2 linked regions of the Homo sapiens genome follow. The protein of the gene in region 1 purifies or fractionates together with the protein of each later gene. This does not show direct contact. Each region holds a gene or a part of one and is shown in the gene's direction. Other genes may lie near its edges.

What was found. Proteins that work in one complex are often made in the same cells at the same time.
Region 2: the proteins of EDNRA (region 1) and MTX1 purify together in Homo sapiens (affinity purification with mass spectrometry; 3 studies listed by BioGRID and IntAct, with this or other methods). This does not show direct contact.

The regions. Positions count from the first base shown.
Region 1 is NC_000004.12:147,483,653-147,491,688, forward strand, and holds part of EDNRA (endothelin-1 receptor isoform a precursor), read left to right. Parts: intron 1-1,959; 5' UTR 1,960-2,029; coding exon 2,030-2,449; intron 2,450-8,036. UniProt on the Homo sapiens protein: Receptor for endothelin-1. Mediates its action by association with G proteins that activate a phosphatidylinositol-calcium second messenger system. The rank order of binding affinities for ET-A is: ET1 > ET2 >> ET3.
Region 2 is NC_000001.11:155,204,798-155,212,212, forward strand, and holds the start of MTX1 (metaxin-1), read left to right. Parts: upstream 1-3,897; 5' UTR 3,898-4,007; coding exon 4,008-4,535; intron 4,536-5,548; coding exon 5,549-5,618; intron 5,619-5,750; coding exon 5,751-5,830; intron 5,831-7,329; coding exon 7,330-7,415. Other genes in the region: THBS3 (thrombospondin-3), read right to left, coding at 58-160, 263-519, 1,403-1,609, 2,174-2,423. UniProt on the Homo sapiens protein: Involved in transport of proteins into the mitochondrion. Essential for embryonic development.

The DNA.
Region 1 (8,036 bases):
AGTGGTTAACATCAACCTTGAATACACTCAGAAAAAGGATTCAATTTTATTTTTTACTTTTTATTTATTTAATTTTTTTTTTTTTGAGACAGGGTCTCACTCTGCTGCTCAGGATGGAGTGCAGTGACTCGATCATAGCTCCCTGCAGCCTTAACCTCCTGGACTCAAGTGATTCTCCCATCTCAGCCTCCCAAGTAGCTGAGACTACAGGCACACGCCACCATGCCTGTCTAATCTTTTTTATGTTTTGTAAAGACAGGGTCTCACTAAGTTGCCCAGGCTAGTTTCAAACTCCTGGGCTCAAGTGATCCTCCTGCTTTGGCCTCCCAAAGTGCTGAGATTATAGACATGAGCCACCACACCCAACCAGGACTCAATTTTTTTAAGATTAAATTATGACCTGGGTATATACATCACAGACACGTACACACACCACCGCATAAATCAGATTATGTCTTCATTTGAAGATTCATAAAAGCCTACAGAAAAGGAAATATATAAAATATTGAAATAGGATGAGCTATTTTTAATTATCTTTGATTATTCCTTATTAAGGTCTCCTAGACTTCCTGGACAGGAAGGACCACTTGCTCTCTGCAAGTGACTTAAAAATAAATAAATAAATAAATAAACCACACCAGATGGTCTTTGAAAATGTCTAACCACCCTCCTGAGTCTATTGCTTCATCTAAACTCTGGAGACTTCTTTAAAATATTTTACATACAAATAAAGCACAAGAATGAGAGACAGGATGGTTTAGTGGTTAACAGCTCCGGCTCAGAGTTGGACTGACCTGCCTTAGAATCGCAGTGTTGCCACCCATCACCTGTGGCCTTGACAAGCTGCTTCACCCTCCTGGGCCTCTGTTTCCCTATCTTCAAAATTGAACCGTGGATCTACCCCACAGGACCATTGTATGGATTACAGGGCATCATGCACATATAGTACTGAGTACAGTGACTGGCATAAAATAAATGTAGCTATATAGGATGGTTAAAAGATAGCATGGGGACAGGTGTCCCTTGGAAACCAAAATACTATGACTAGCCTGGAAAAGTTCATTACTCCCATTTCATTCATCGGCAAATACCGTATTGTGATGATAATTTCTGAGAAATGAAAAAGCAAAAAAACTCCTGTAAAAAATTTAGATTTTACACATTAATCATCAAGGTTTTCAAAACAAATGTTTTTATCAATTATTTCATTCTTAATTGAAACTAAAATTGTTAGATGTGTTAATGGTGTTAACCAGAGTTCTCATTAACATTTCATAACACTTTAGATGGCTACCTGTGCTGCACTTCATCCCTATGTTCATTATTTATCATATGCAAGACAGCACACATTTTAGAAGATTCAATTTTTACATTCGATAATTTTATTTTATGCCTCAATACCCTGTACCCTTTACTCAGCATATAATGCCTTTTCTCTTTCATTAAAAAATATGTTTGTATCTCAACTCTTGAAGATTTTTGTAATTCAGGTTCTTATCAGCCTGAATGTAGAGAAAGAAGTAACTACTACTTAAAGGAAAAACTGACATAGCCTCATCCATATTATGATGTAGATATAAGTATAGCTATGTATAGAGATGAGTGAGAGAGACAAAGCTAGAGAGATAGGGAGATGGAGATAGAGCTAGAGATGGAAATAGAGACAGAGATAGATAGCTATAGAGACGGAAATGGAGACAGAGACAGAGACGGAGATGACAGAGATGATGGAGATGATGGAGATGGAGATGGAGACTGACATAGAGGAGATAGAGCTTGCCCTAATAGAGCTTCAGTTTTTTTCTGGTTTTGCTCTGTCATAGGGTAACCTGATATACATATATCTTATCTAATCACCAAATATATCCTGCATTTTAATTGAATCAATAAATAATCATTGACTATGATCTTTTTGGCAACTGGGTTTTGGAACAAAAATTATTTTTCCTTTTGTTTCAGGTGAAAAAAAAGTGAAGGTGTAAAAGCAGCACAAGTGCAATAAGAGATATTTCCTCAAATTTGCCTCAAGATGGAAACCCTTTGCCTCAGGGCATCCTTTTGGCTGGCACTGGTTGGATGTGTAATCAGTGATAATCCTGAGAGATACAGCACAAATCTAAGCAATCATGTGGATGATTTCACCACTTTTCGTGGCACAGAGCTCAGCTTCCTGGTTACCACTCATCAACCCACTAATTTGGTCCTACCCAGCAATGGCTCAATGCACAACTATTGCCCACAGCAGACTAAAATTACTTCAGCTTTCAAATACATTAACACTGTGATATCTTGTACTATTTTCATCGTGGGAATGGTGGGGAATGCAACTCTGCTCAGGATCATTTACCAGAACAAATGTATGAGGAATGGCCCCAACGCGCTGATAGCCAGTCTTGCCCTTGGAGACCTTATCTATGTGGTCATTGATCTCCCTATCAATGTATTTAAGGTAGGAAGTAACCACAAATGTATTTGCAAATTTAAACCCATGCTCTGATTCCACGTGGAGAGTTGCTGCAGACTTTTCTGACCTTTGGAATTTTATCTGTGTTTTTACTGAGAGCTATTTCTGCTGTCTTCTAACTACTAGTTTTAAGATTTACAAATTTTATTATCTGTCTTATGTTACACTTAGTTTCTACCTTAATTGTAACAAAATAGTATTTCAGGGATGATGGTTCAAAATCATGGTGTTTCATGACTTGGATTCTCATGCCACCCCTGGGCTTGCTGGTTGGATAGGCTGTCTTGGCAAGATCCCTGGATTTTTATGAAATGCAATTTCCAGAGTGAGAGCTACTAGGCCCAGAAAATACTTGAAACAAACATATCCTTGAGTTTAGTTACCGTTGAATATGATGCTGTTCAGAAGCCAGATATCTACAGTCCAGCTTGAAATGAATTGTATTTATTTTATTTTGACTGTCTAGATTAATGATTAAAGCCAAAGGGCATCCTGGCTTTTCTCAGTGATATGGGTGACTTAGAGATAATGGGGTCCACATGATAGCAGGCCACTGTTGACCTTGCTGAGCAGCATTACTAACTAATACCACTTAAAATTTGCCTGCTTTACTGTGGTCTCCTTCATTTCTTCAGTCTGCATTTATTGAGCACCCACTGTGTGCCCACCCCTGAGCTAGGCAGTAAGGAACCAAAAAGAAACACAACAAAGTCAGTGCCTCAGTGTGAGAGGAAGATAACTAACCTTGCTTACAGACTGTATTAGGCCATTTCTACATTGCTATTAAAAAAAAAAAAAAAAGGCTGGGTAATTTATAAAGAAAAGAGATTTGATTGGCTCACAGCTCTGTAGGCTGTACATGCATGGCTCCAGCATCTGCTTCTGGTGAGGGCCTCAGGAAGCTTCCAAATATGGCAGAGGGAGAAGGGGTGCAGGCACGTAACATGGCAAGAGCAGGAGCAAGAGAGAAGGGGGCAAGGCACCACACTTGCAAACCACCAGATGTCTCGAGAATCACTCACTAATGCAAGGACAGCACCAAGCCATTCATGGGAGATCTGCCCCCATGAGCCAGACACCTCCCACCAGTTCCTACCTCCAACATTGGGGATTACATTTCAACATGAGATTTGGAGGGGACAAACATCCAAACTATATCAGAGACTACTTAGACCCAAAACAAACTAAAGCCGAAGGAATTACATATTCCATATTTGGTCTAGTTGTTGGGAGGGAAAAATTGCTGCAAGAATTCAGATATACTAAAATTCAAATGAAATGGCCTGATCTATGCCAGATTTTATGAAATGTGTTTATTCTAAACCCAAGAAGAGTATTTTCCTCAGCCTTGTTTTTTCCTTCTATGTATTATGCATAGAAAGCAACTATTCTAAGAGGTAATATTCTGAAATATTACTTTAAATGGCAAGTTTTGTCAATTGAAGATACAACACATTTTAAGTAAAACAGTAATCTCTCAGTTTCCAATAAGTACACTTAAGCTGTGGTTAAATTATATTACCCTAGCAGAAAAATCAGTGGTCTGATAATATAGATGAAAACAATGGTTACAATTTTGACATTGCAAATAAAAACTTCCCAAAATTACACCAGTACACTGTTTCCAAAATTGAAGAGATTAGAGAACAAACAATCAAAAAATTACCATCTCTTTCCACAGGATAGCATAAATACATGTGTTTTCTATTAGAGCTTAAAATAGGAATTTAGAACTAAACTATGATGCAAAATTGAAAATGTGTAATTGATTTAAAATGTTTAGCATATGCTACATAACTTTAATCTTTTCTTTTAAAAAGTTTTCTCTTTATGATATACTATGTGCACACAACCACTTGACTTTCTCCTGACATTTCTCCTTAATGATAAATTGGAAAATTCAAATTTTGACTCTTCAGCCATCAGAGTGTGGAGTATCAAACATTGATTATTCAAACTTATGAACTAGTGAACCAACCCATCATGGCTCAAGAAAATAATTATCCATCTCTGCATTTATAACTCCCTGCTGCTGTTCACCCTGAAGCACACTATGTAGACTTGCCATGTGCAAAGCAGCTTCTTAGCCAATCAATATCCACAACTGCTGGGAAGGATACCTGCTTATCTCTTTGCGGTGCTACTGCCAATCACCAGACTAAACATCATTTCTATTCCATGGCAACGTTTTAAGTCAGACCATCTGGAATGTCTCCAGATTTGGTAAAAATGCAAATAAAACTTTGCTTTACATTCACCTAGCAATGAATAAAAATTAACATATTCTTATTTGACCATATTGTTCTCCCCTCCTGGGAATCCAATACTTTGTATACCTTACTGTAGTTCTAAATAATGTGGACAGTTTGACTGGTACTTTTACATCATAGGTAGGAGTACATTTGTGTAATTCCTGTTTTTCCAAAACTCGTAATGAGTCATTTAACTATCATTAATTTTAGAAAGTAAACCTTTAGGCTAAAAAAACAAATACTCTTTAGTTATTTCAATCTTTTTCCAGAGGAAAAGAGAAAAAAGCACTGGAGTGTGCTAAAAAGGCTCACAGTATTTAGGAGCAATCGCCACATCTTTCTGTCATCCTCTTCTCTAGGTCATGAGATCATACATGTTGCTATTCTTCTGACTTCTAAGCAGGATACTCAAGAGATCCTTCCAAGCAATGTGAGTCACAGGCCCCCATCCCTTTCCCCCATAGCTGCCTCCCATAGTAAAATTCTGTGGGAGTCTGTCACATATTAAACCTATAGATTCCTCTAACCATATCAAGTTCACTACCTCTGTATTGCAGGGCAAGGTAGCAGCTGTCCATCTCACTTTACCATTACATTTATGTAGCTATGAAAATAATGCATACAATTGGAGAATATTCAGTTAAAGGGATGTGTGAGCCTTCTTTATTTCCCTATTAGAAGGATTAGGTTGAAAGAAGAATAAATAGTTGAAAGTATCTAATATGCTCTTCAAAGAAAGATGAGTTTTGAATCACACCTATTTTTGTGTTTAACAATTATATTAATTGCTTTTCTTTTTTAATTTGTATAAATTTATGGGGTGCAAGTGTAGTTTTGTTACATGTATATATTGCATAGTGGTGAAGTCAAGGCTTTTAGGGTATCCATCACAAAAATAATATACATTGTACCCACTATGAAATTTCTCATCATCCACTCTTAGTTGCTTTTATGCTCAGTTCTAAGGTGTCTCCAGACAGACAACATTGCTTTGAGTCATATCAGAGTCAGCATAAGTGGAAGTAGACTATTTAAAGATTGTATTAATATCTGAGGCAAGCTAGAATTACTGATAAGACTGTAATAATGTTACAAGAAGAAGAAGAAGGCACTATAAAGTATTCTTCCTATTAACGTTTTATTCCCTTTCTCTCACTTTGAAAAAGATTGTACTGAAACGGTTTCATAGAGCAATGTAATATAAAACACAACTGAAAAGTAACATAACAGGTATCAAACAGCTGGGCTGTTTCGGATGTCATTAACCTGTGTAGCTGATGCTTGGTGGCTCTGGATGGCCTGTGGCATGGAAGGTGGGATGGGGTCATTCCACCCCTAAATTTTCAGAAATTTCTTAATTTCTTAATTGATCTCCCTATCTTCAGAGCTTCTTCCCCATAACATATCCGGGACTTTGCTTCCATCTGTCAAGTGCCACTGCTTCTAAAAAAGCACCCAGGAGCTCCCACCTGTCCCCCTTTTCCCCCATGTTTAGCAATCAAGGCCCTCCACACTTTGGCCATACTTCACCTCCTTCCTACTAATTCCCAAAATGCATGGCTCAGCTCTGTCAAAATGCTATCACTACCCCCAAGGAACATACTTTGCCCTAAATAACATTCTCAGAGAGACTGAATGTAGTCACCGAATTGCTGCTGCTGAAGCATTTACAGATCCTAGTTTGAAAAATGAGTTAGGCCTAGAATTATATATGTTGCATCTAACAGAAATAACCCAAAAGATGAAAAGAAGTTCCTATAGCCCTTGCTTACATACACTCACACACACACACACACACACACACACACACACACACACAACCTGATGATAAAAGAAACTCAGCAATCTAAGAAAGTAAAATGCAAGGCAGAAGGAACCAAGGCAAGCCAATGAATGCCAGTTGCCTTCTTGGTTTTGAAACACAATGGCCTTGCAAATGCTAATGTTGAAGAAAAAACTATTTCTAAGATTATCAAAGGATAACTGATTTTTAGTTGTTCAAAATAAGGATAATATTACTAATTGCAGTAGAAGATTGACAAAAGCAGGAAGGAGGAAGGGAAAGGAGTTAGCAGATTTTTTCATATACCCAAGCTTATAACCCATACTGCTGGTGGATTCATTCTTGTCAATAAATTACATTATCTGATATCCTAAATTTTCAAGAAAAACAAAAACTTAGCCAAGTAAATTAATCTGTACATAGGATATTTACATTTGTTAGAATGGCAAAATAGTTAAAACATTGTCTCCATGTTGGGAGACTGAAAATAACCCCTGATTACTAGATGACAAAATAGATAAGTATAGAATTTAATAATTATATTATTTAATGATTCATGAGATTACATGTATGCCATAGAGTGTTGTCCATAGGGAGATGGGTTATAATTTTGAACAGAGTGGAAGCCCTAAAAGTGATATTTGTGCATGAGCCAAGGCTTGGCACCATGTAGCTTCAGGATAACAGCTCCGCCATTATGCACACACAGACATTTCCATATATCACTGTACCTCGTCTCTTAAGCAGAAACAAGAATGCAGGGAGATGTATGTATGAGAGAGATGGAGTAAGGGAAAGAAGTAAGAGGTACAGTCCAATGGCTTGCCATAGACGCTTTTGACGTGCATAGCAGGGAGTTGATGCCGTGGATAATATGCCACGTAAATCACGTCTCCACTTAGCATGTGGCACAAAGCAGATCTGTGAGAACAACAGTGATAGAAGCCGGTAACTCTGTTGATTACTAATTTTGTCTACCCTAAGCAACCACCCCTTATTGAGGACAACAATGAAAAATAAACACATCTTATTTCTGCATGAAGTTACCACGAATATTTTGCAATGAAAAGTCAAGACTCTCAATATGTTGCTCTGGCAGAGGATCTGAACAATGTGGAAATGAGAGACATCCACATAGAGCCAGTTATCTCCATGTTCACACAGCCTTTGACATCTTGTGCAACTGGGATCCATCCTTCTGGGGCAGCTTTACAAAAGCTGCTTCTTGACATATCAAATCACCACAGCAAATTGTGTCTTAAAAATAAATTGTCACAACTTACAGATTAGATACCTCAAGCATAGTAGATGTTCAGTAATGCTTGTTGTTATGATTTGATTTGATAAGGGCCTTCACTCTTAAATTAACTTCAAATCAGATTAATCTGAGATATTCAAATTAAAATGATGATGAAGGTGGGGGTGGTGGTGGTGATGATGATGATGATTTGTCAAAGGGATTCTTCATTTATAGACAAGGCAGAAGACATTATCAGTGGTATGCATATACTATTCCCCAACTTAGTCAAGTTACCCA
Region 2 (7,415 bases), on another chromosome or scaffold:
GTCACCAAAGGCCACAGGATCCGTGGTCCAATGTCAGCAAACAAGTCTCTGTGTTACCTGCACTGTGGATGGACTCGTCCCCTTGGAATGGACACTCACTCAGGGCTCCTACCCGGGCCATGGACCCACCCAGAATAATTTTCATAGATTCCACAAAGCCCTGGGGGGATAGCAGCAGAGTAAGGTGGGAAGGTCTACCAACCCCTTCCCCAGCTGGTGCAAACTCTATTTCCACAGAACTCAGAGGCTCCTCCCGGCTCACCTGCATCCTCAAATACGCCTTCTGTCCAGTCCTAATCTCCAGCCCATCGACCTCCGCTGGAGGAATGGGGGCCAGTGCTGGAAGGCCTGCATGTTGGTCACCCAGTTTGCAGTCCACGTAGAGATGTAGGGCAGGGCTGGGTCTGGAGGGACCTCGGAGTCGCAGGAGAACTGTGTGTGTGCGCCCATCAGCCAGGCCCGCTTGCTGTAGGTTCACGGCGTGGACTTTGCCATCCTCCCGCTGGTATCGCACCAGTACTGCCCAGGAGGGGAGATCAGTATGGGCGCTATCCCCCACCCCCTGCCTCCCAGCTGAGCCTTGGATCAACTCTGCTAGATACCACATCTCTAGGGCCCCTATCCCTAATTCTACTATGTGGCTCTCAACACCTTGTATTTAATAGGTACACAATAAATGTTTTTGAAATTGCTTTAGAGGCCAGGCACGGTGGCTCACACCTGTAATCCCAGCACTTTAGAAGGCCAAGGTGGGCAGATCACTTGAGGTCAGAAGTTCGAGAACAGCCTGGTCAACATGGCGAAACCCTGTTTCTACTAAAAATACAAAAGTTAGCCAGGCATGGTGGTGGGCACCTGTAGTCCCAGCTACTCAGGAGGCTGAGATAGGAGAATTGCTTGAACCCAGGAGGCAGAGGTTGCAGTGAGCTGAGATTGTACCACTGCACTCCAGCCTAGGTGACAAAGCAAGACTCCATTTAAAAAAATAATTGGTTTAGAGACAAATACTTTCTTAGTCTTCATTGGTATCAGATGACTGTATCCTCTCCTAGGGTGACAGCTGGTTTTGTGGCCACTGACCTGTTCCAGGGATCTGAAAGACCTTTCTGTATCACCGCTGAGGCACAGAGACATGCCTCACCCTCCTTCCAGGCATCCCCAAGTACAACCTCCCATCCCTATAAATATCAGGACTCAAGCCTCACCCTATTGTTTGGTACATGGGCTCCTAAAGCACCTTATAAGCACCCCATACCAGGTGCCCCTGATGTCTGGGCACAGCCTGATGGGACCTTGGTCCCTAGTGGAGGCCAAGGAGAATGAGGAAGCACTTGGGAAGTAGGGATGAGGGAGAGTGCTTAAGGAGGTCACCATTGCAAGAAAGGAGATGCCCACCAGTCACCTTTGTTGATCTTGCCTACAACAGAGGCCTCCAGCCATCGAGTGTTGTCTTGGCGAGAATAGAGGCCAAAGAGGACACCACCCTGCTTGGGGGGCAGGCGGAAGGTGGATAAGAGGTAGATGTCCCCAGCAGTGAGCAAGGCTGTCCGGATCTTCTCTGCCACAGCTACCATCTGCCGAGACTCGCCCACAGTCAGCAGGTCAATTACTGGTCAGGCAGGGGTTATCAAGGTTAGAGAATGGGATCAAATGCTAAGGTATGCCCTCCCCCGAGCCCACATCACCCCCTACCCCCACCACCAGGCAGCGTTAGTCACCTCAAAATTCAACCCTTGGCTGGGCATGGTGGCTCGCACCTGTAATCCCAACACCTTGGGAGGTTGAGGCAGGTGGATCGCCTAAGGTCAGGAGTTCGAGACCAGCCTGGCCAACACGGTGAAACCCCGTGTCTACTAAAAATACAAAAACAACAACAAAAAAGAAAAAAAAACCACCTAGCCGGGCGTGGTGGCGGGCACCTGTAATCCCAGCTACTCAGGAGGCTGAGGCAGGAGACTCGCTTGAACCTGAGAGGTGGAGGTTGCAGTGAGCCGAGATCGCGCCATTGCACTCCAGCCTGGGCAACAAGAGTGAAACTCCATCTCAAAAAGACAAAACGAAAACAAAAAAAAACCTCAACCCTTGTTGCTCTCAGAGGACAGAGGCACTGTGCCTTCCTTTCCCCATTATTGCCTATTACTACCTTCCAGGAACCTGCAGGTTTGAGACTCACTTGGAAACACAGAAACAGCACCCCACAAATTTGAGATGCCCCCACCAGGTGGCGCAAAGGAGATGCTGTGCTGATCCCCCACAGGAGTGGCACCTGGTGTCCACAACGTAGAAATGGAAGGCAGCTTCTCTTTCCACTCCTGGGTTTGGCTCGTTCCACACCCTAGTTCCCCTCCTCCCATCCTAGGGGCGCAGCACACTCGCTCTGGATAAGAACAGCTGCCCACTGAGGACTCTAACCCTCCCACCATCTGGGCTATCTCCCACGGGAATGTAGGACCCAGCTCCTCTGCCTCCTGTGTCCTGGCCAATCTGTGGTTTTCCCTCCAGCCAGTAAAGAATCTATGCCTGTGTCATCTGCTCCAGCTACCTCTCCCACATCCATCGGCCCATCCCACCACCAGACCTCCGGGAGAGCCCAGGCTTCTTGGTCCCCACCCCCGCCCTGTCCTTGGGCAGCCAGGAGCCCAGGGGGACGAAGCCCAGGGACCTACAGTACGCCCACCTTCAGGCTGCTCTCCCAGACCCTAGGGTGCCTACAGATGCTCAGGAACCACCCCAGCCAGGCAGCCTGAGCATCCAGTTCCTGAGTCCTCTGCCCTGGCCTCATGCCTGACCCTGTCCTGTTCCAGCTCCCCCACTACTCTCCGGTGCCCACTCCTCTCCACCAGGCCATAATTTCACCAACTCTAGGCAGTCTTAAGTTTTCCTCTGGCTCAATTTCTGGACTCTTCCCCTCTCCCCTTGCCCACATGTTCTCTGCTACTTGGGCTGAGGGCAAATGGGGAAGAAGCAGAGAGCGGTCTAAGAGGATGGAGACAGGCTTACCCTGCAGATCCTGACTGGCAGATGTGAAAAAGCAAAGGAGGAGAAGAGCCAGGGCCCCCCGAAGTTCCTGCGTCTCCATGCCTCTCAGCCGGCTCACTACCCCTGGCAGGCAGGCAGCTGGGAGGGGAAAAGGCTAGGCGGAGAGAGCAGGAGCCGGGGGGCGGAGGGACAGAATTGGAGGGGGGGCCAGCAGGCGGGTGAGGGGGGGCTGAAACAAAGAGCTGCCAATCACCCTGGAGGCATCATCAGCTCTGGGAACCAGGGGCACTGGGAAAGAATCCTGGAGGCCTCCCTGCTTTCTACCTCTCCCTAATGATCCTCCCCCAGGTGCCTCCCTCTCCGCAGTCATCATTGTTGGGGGTCTCGGCACACAGCGCTACCGAATGCCACTGTTTTCTGGAAGCCACGATTGTGGAAGGCAAGAACCCCTGGCAGGGGCAGTGCTAGACAGTGGGCATTATTCCACAGCTGGCAGGAAAGGATGCCAAGGGAGTGGCCGCAACTAGCTTGCTATAGTGCCCAGGGATGCCCACATGGCATGAATTTTGCTGTTCTGGCGGAGCAAGTGCTCTTTATTAGGGTGGGGGGTCCCCTGACAAGTGCCTGTTTCTCCATTTTCCCTCATTCGTAGGAAAGCTTGGGAGTCTGGAAGCGTCTGACGGGAACTGAAGGGAGAATCTAAAGCAGTGGTCAGTGAGGTCAGAGTGAAGAAACCAAAAAAGAGGAAAGGGACACCAGGGACAGGCGCAGAAGACCAGGGGTACAGGCGAGGAGCCAAGGACCAGACTGTGGAACACTGTGGGTACTAGCGGACGGGCCGTGACCCGGATGAAGCAGAGGGGCGCCTGAGTTCCCGTCACCTAAGCGACAGCCTGCGAGCCTCTCTTCCCCTCCCCCACCCAAGCCCCAGCCCGGCCTCCGCTCCGGCCGCCGCCACCGCCCCTGTTTTGTTTCCATGGCGACAGGCGGCGCAGGGCCCGCTCCAAACATAACGCGCTGTGGAAAACATGCTGCTCGGGGGACCCCCCCGCAGTCCCCGCTCGGGGACGAGCCCCAAGGGGCCCTGGAGCAGTACAGGCCACGTGCAGTTTGGCAAGAGCCCCCAGACCTGGCCCAGGCGCACAAGACCCCGCTCTCCAGAGCCTGCCGCGCCTTCAGGGGTTCGGGGCTCCACTTGGACGAGGCGCCGTGACTCTCCGAGGCGCGCCGGGCCGACAGCGCTGTCCCGCTACGTGGGCCACCTCTGGATGGGCCGGCGGCCGCCCTCCCCCGAGGCCCGCGGCCCAGTCCCCCGCAGTTCAGCTGCCAGTCGGGCCAGAAGAAGCCTCGCCTCCCCGGGGATCTCCCCAGGCCCCCTGACCGCAACGATCGGAGGGGCGGTGGCGGGGGGCGGGCCCAGGCAGGGGAGGGCAGAAGCACACAAGGAAGTGTTTCCGGGACAGAGGGTGGGCAAGATGGCGGCGCCCATGGAGCTGTTCTGCTGGTCAGGGGGCTGGGGGCTGCCGTCAGTGGACCTGGACAGCCTGGCCGTGCTGGTGAGGGGTGGCGCCGGCGCCCTCTGCTGTGCCCTGATGACTGGGGAGGGGGCCGAACTAGCCAAGCATCCAAACCTTGCCAGGGCTACTCAGCACGGGCGCAGTGGGGGAAACTGAGGCAGTCAAAGAGCGTACGTGGCCGATATGGCCTCAGTGCCCTATGCTGTAGTTTTCTAGGCTTAATGCAGCAATGAAAAGACGCCTGGTTGGGAGTTCAGGTGATGGGTTCTAGTCCTTGCTCATCCATTCACTGGCTGTGTGACCTTGCGGAGATCCTTTCTCTTTGGGCATTTTTTTTCTCCATTCGGAGGTTTACTAGGCTGGACTGTCTCAGGGACCTACTCTAGCTTGGAATTCCTGCCTTCTCCTCAGCCCCCTTCTCCTCTTCCTCCTCACTTAACAGCATTTACTGAGGCTATTGTTTGTTAGACCAAACGACTCACAGCCAGGCTTTGTATAAAGAGCTTAGCAATCAGACTTCCTTTGCTTCATTTATTCATTGACTCCTTGCTTTAAAGAGGATCTATTAGATTTCTTCCAAATATTAAACATTGCCAGGCAAAGATGAATAAAATTTGGTTCCTCCCTTCGAGTTTACAGAAAGGCAGATAGGTAAGCAAATAAATATAATAAAATATTCACATATAAGTTAAAGTAGGAACAGACCACAGATACTGCCAAAGAGAAGGGCATTATCAGTGCTTCCAAGAAGAGGGATACTGGTTAGGAAAAGCTTCTGAGGATAGATGTTCACCAGGTAGATGGCAAGAGAGGAGATAGAGGAAAGGATTTTCCTGGCTGTCCTGTAATCACAGACATGTCCGGAATCTCTCTGAGCCCTGTGTTGTCCATTTGTAAAATAGAAATGGTAGTGACTCCCCCTTTTTTTTCGAGACTAAGATACTAAGTATAGGGAATGGCACATAAGGTATTCAATAAATGTTATTTCTCTTCTTGATACCACTGTGGGGGACATGGCTCTGCCTCTCTGACTTCTGCTTCCTTCCCTGCAGACCTATGCCAGATTTACTGGTGCTCCACTGAAGGTACACAAGATCAGCAACCCCTGGCAGAGCCCTTCAGGTACCCAGTATCCCTTGGGGGTAAGGAAGGGTGTGTACAAGGGGAGAAGCAAGAAATAGGCAGGAATGTGTTGCAACTATGTATGACTAGGCAGCTAAGGGTCTGGTTGGTATACTTCCCTCTCAATATCAGGAACTCTGCCTGCCCTTCGGACCAGTCATGGAGAGGTCATCTCAGTTCCACACAAGATCATCACCCACCTTCGAAAAGAGGTAGGTGACTTGGATAGAGGGGGCTGCCAGTGAGAGAAGTTCAGTCAATTCTATACAATACACATTTATTGAGCACCAGATATATGCCATGCTAGATGCAGGTGACCCAGAGCATCAAGGAGCAACAGTCTTGTGGCAGAGACACACACAATGTCACTGTGATGTATTAAAGCAGTCGGCAAGAGATGAAACTTAGGGCACTGTGAGGCAGGGAGGGAGAGGAGCACAGGCTGAAGGAGAGTGGAAGACAGCAGTTGGCCTCTGATGGTGGGACTGGAGAGAGATTTCTAAGGGCCACTTCCTGTTTTCAGGGACTAGGTTGGGCTAGATATGGGGCTCAGGATGGACAAGGCTTAGAGCCAGGTTGGAGAAGATGAAAGAGCATTACTAGAGGAGTGGGGAGGCCTAGGCTATGCTCTTTACTCTGCCATTGACTATGTGATCTCGGGCAGGCCATGTAACCTCTCAGGGCTGTGCACTCCCTTATTTGTAAAACTAGAGGGCTGGGCCAGCATGTTTTCCAAGGGTTCTTCTAGCATTGACGGTCAGGTTCCAAGAGGGAACAGTGTCAGAAGTAGGACACTCTTCCTCATTTCTAACTTCCCAAAGGTTGAGGACCTGGGGAATTAATTGAGAGGCCTGGAAAGAGAGGATCCAGATAAAAGCCAAAGTTCCTGGCAGAGCCGAGGCCACTGCCCTGATTGCTTAGGTGTGAACAGAGCTTTTCCAGTTTCCAAAGTATTCTAAATTATTTCCTAACACAGGGGCATTCAGAGAAAGAGATTCTTACCCCCATTCCACAGGGGAGAAACTGAGGCTTAGGGAGATTTAAGGATCATGCTGAAGAGGTTATCTGGGGACAAAGCTTACTCAGGATGTGGAGGGGGATGCTGAGGAACAGGGACTGGAGCCTGGGAAGGTAGGGCAGGCTGAGACCTGGGGGTATGGGTGGAATGTGTATGTGGTAATGGTGTCTGAGCGATGGAATGAAGTGAAAGAAATAGCCAAGAGCTGGGCACTGAGGGAACAAGCTGGGGGGCCCTGGGCGTGGGTTCCCTGGATCCAGGGAGTGTGAGGATGGCTTTCTCTGGTTCCTGAGGCATGGACCGAGTCCTAGCCTGCATCTGAGCTCCGTTGTGCTAGCTTTGTGGTGTCTGGGTCGGGGAAGTTACTGTTAGAAAGTTGCCGTCAGCGGGCGTTGTTCCAGCTTTCCATGGAAATTCTGGGAGCTGCTCCTAGTTTGCGGCGGAGCCTTCCTTCCTTCCCTGCATTGGGCGCTGGACCTTCACGGCCAGGAGGCTCCAAGGCCCAGGCTTTTCGCCAACAGCAACAGGCTACTGGCTGGGCCCAGGCAAGGGGGCCTTGGCAGGAAAAGTTCCTTGCTGTACCTCCACTGCACTCAGAGGCCAGTGAGGGGGGTACCAGACAGGACTCCTTCCTCCCTGGTGAAGTGCCCTTGCAGCTCCCTAGTGTCCACGCCATGGATATTTCCTCCACAGAAGTACAATGCTGATTATGATCTGTCAGCTCGGCAAGGGGCAGACACCCTGGCCTTCATGTCTCTCCTGGAGGAGAAGTTGCTCCC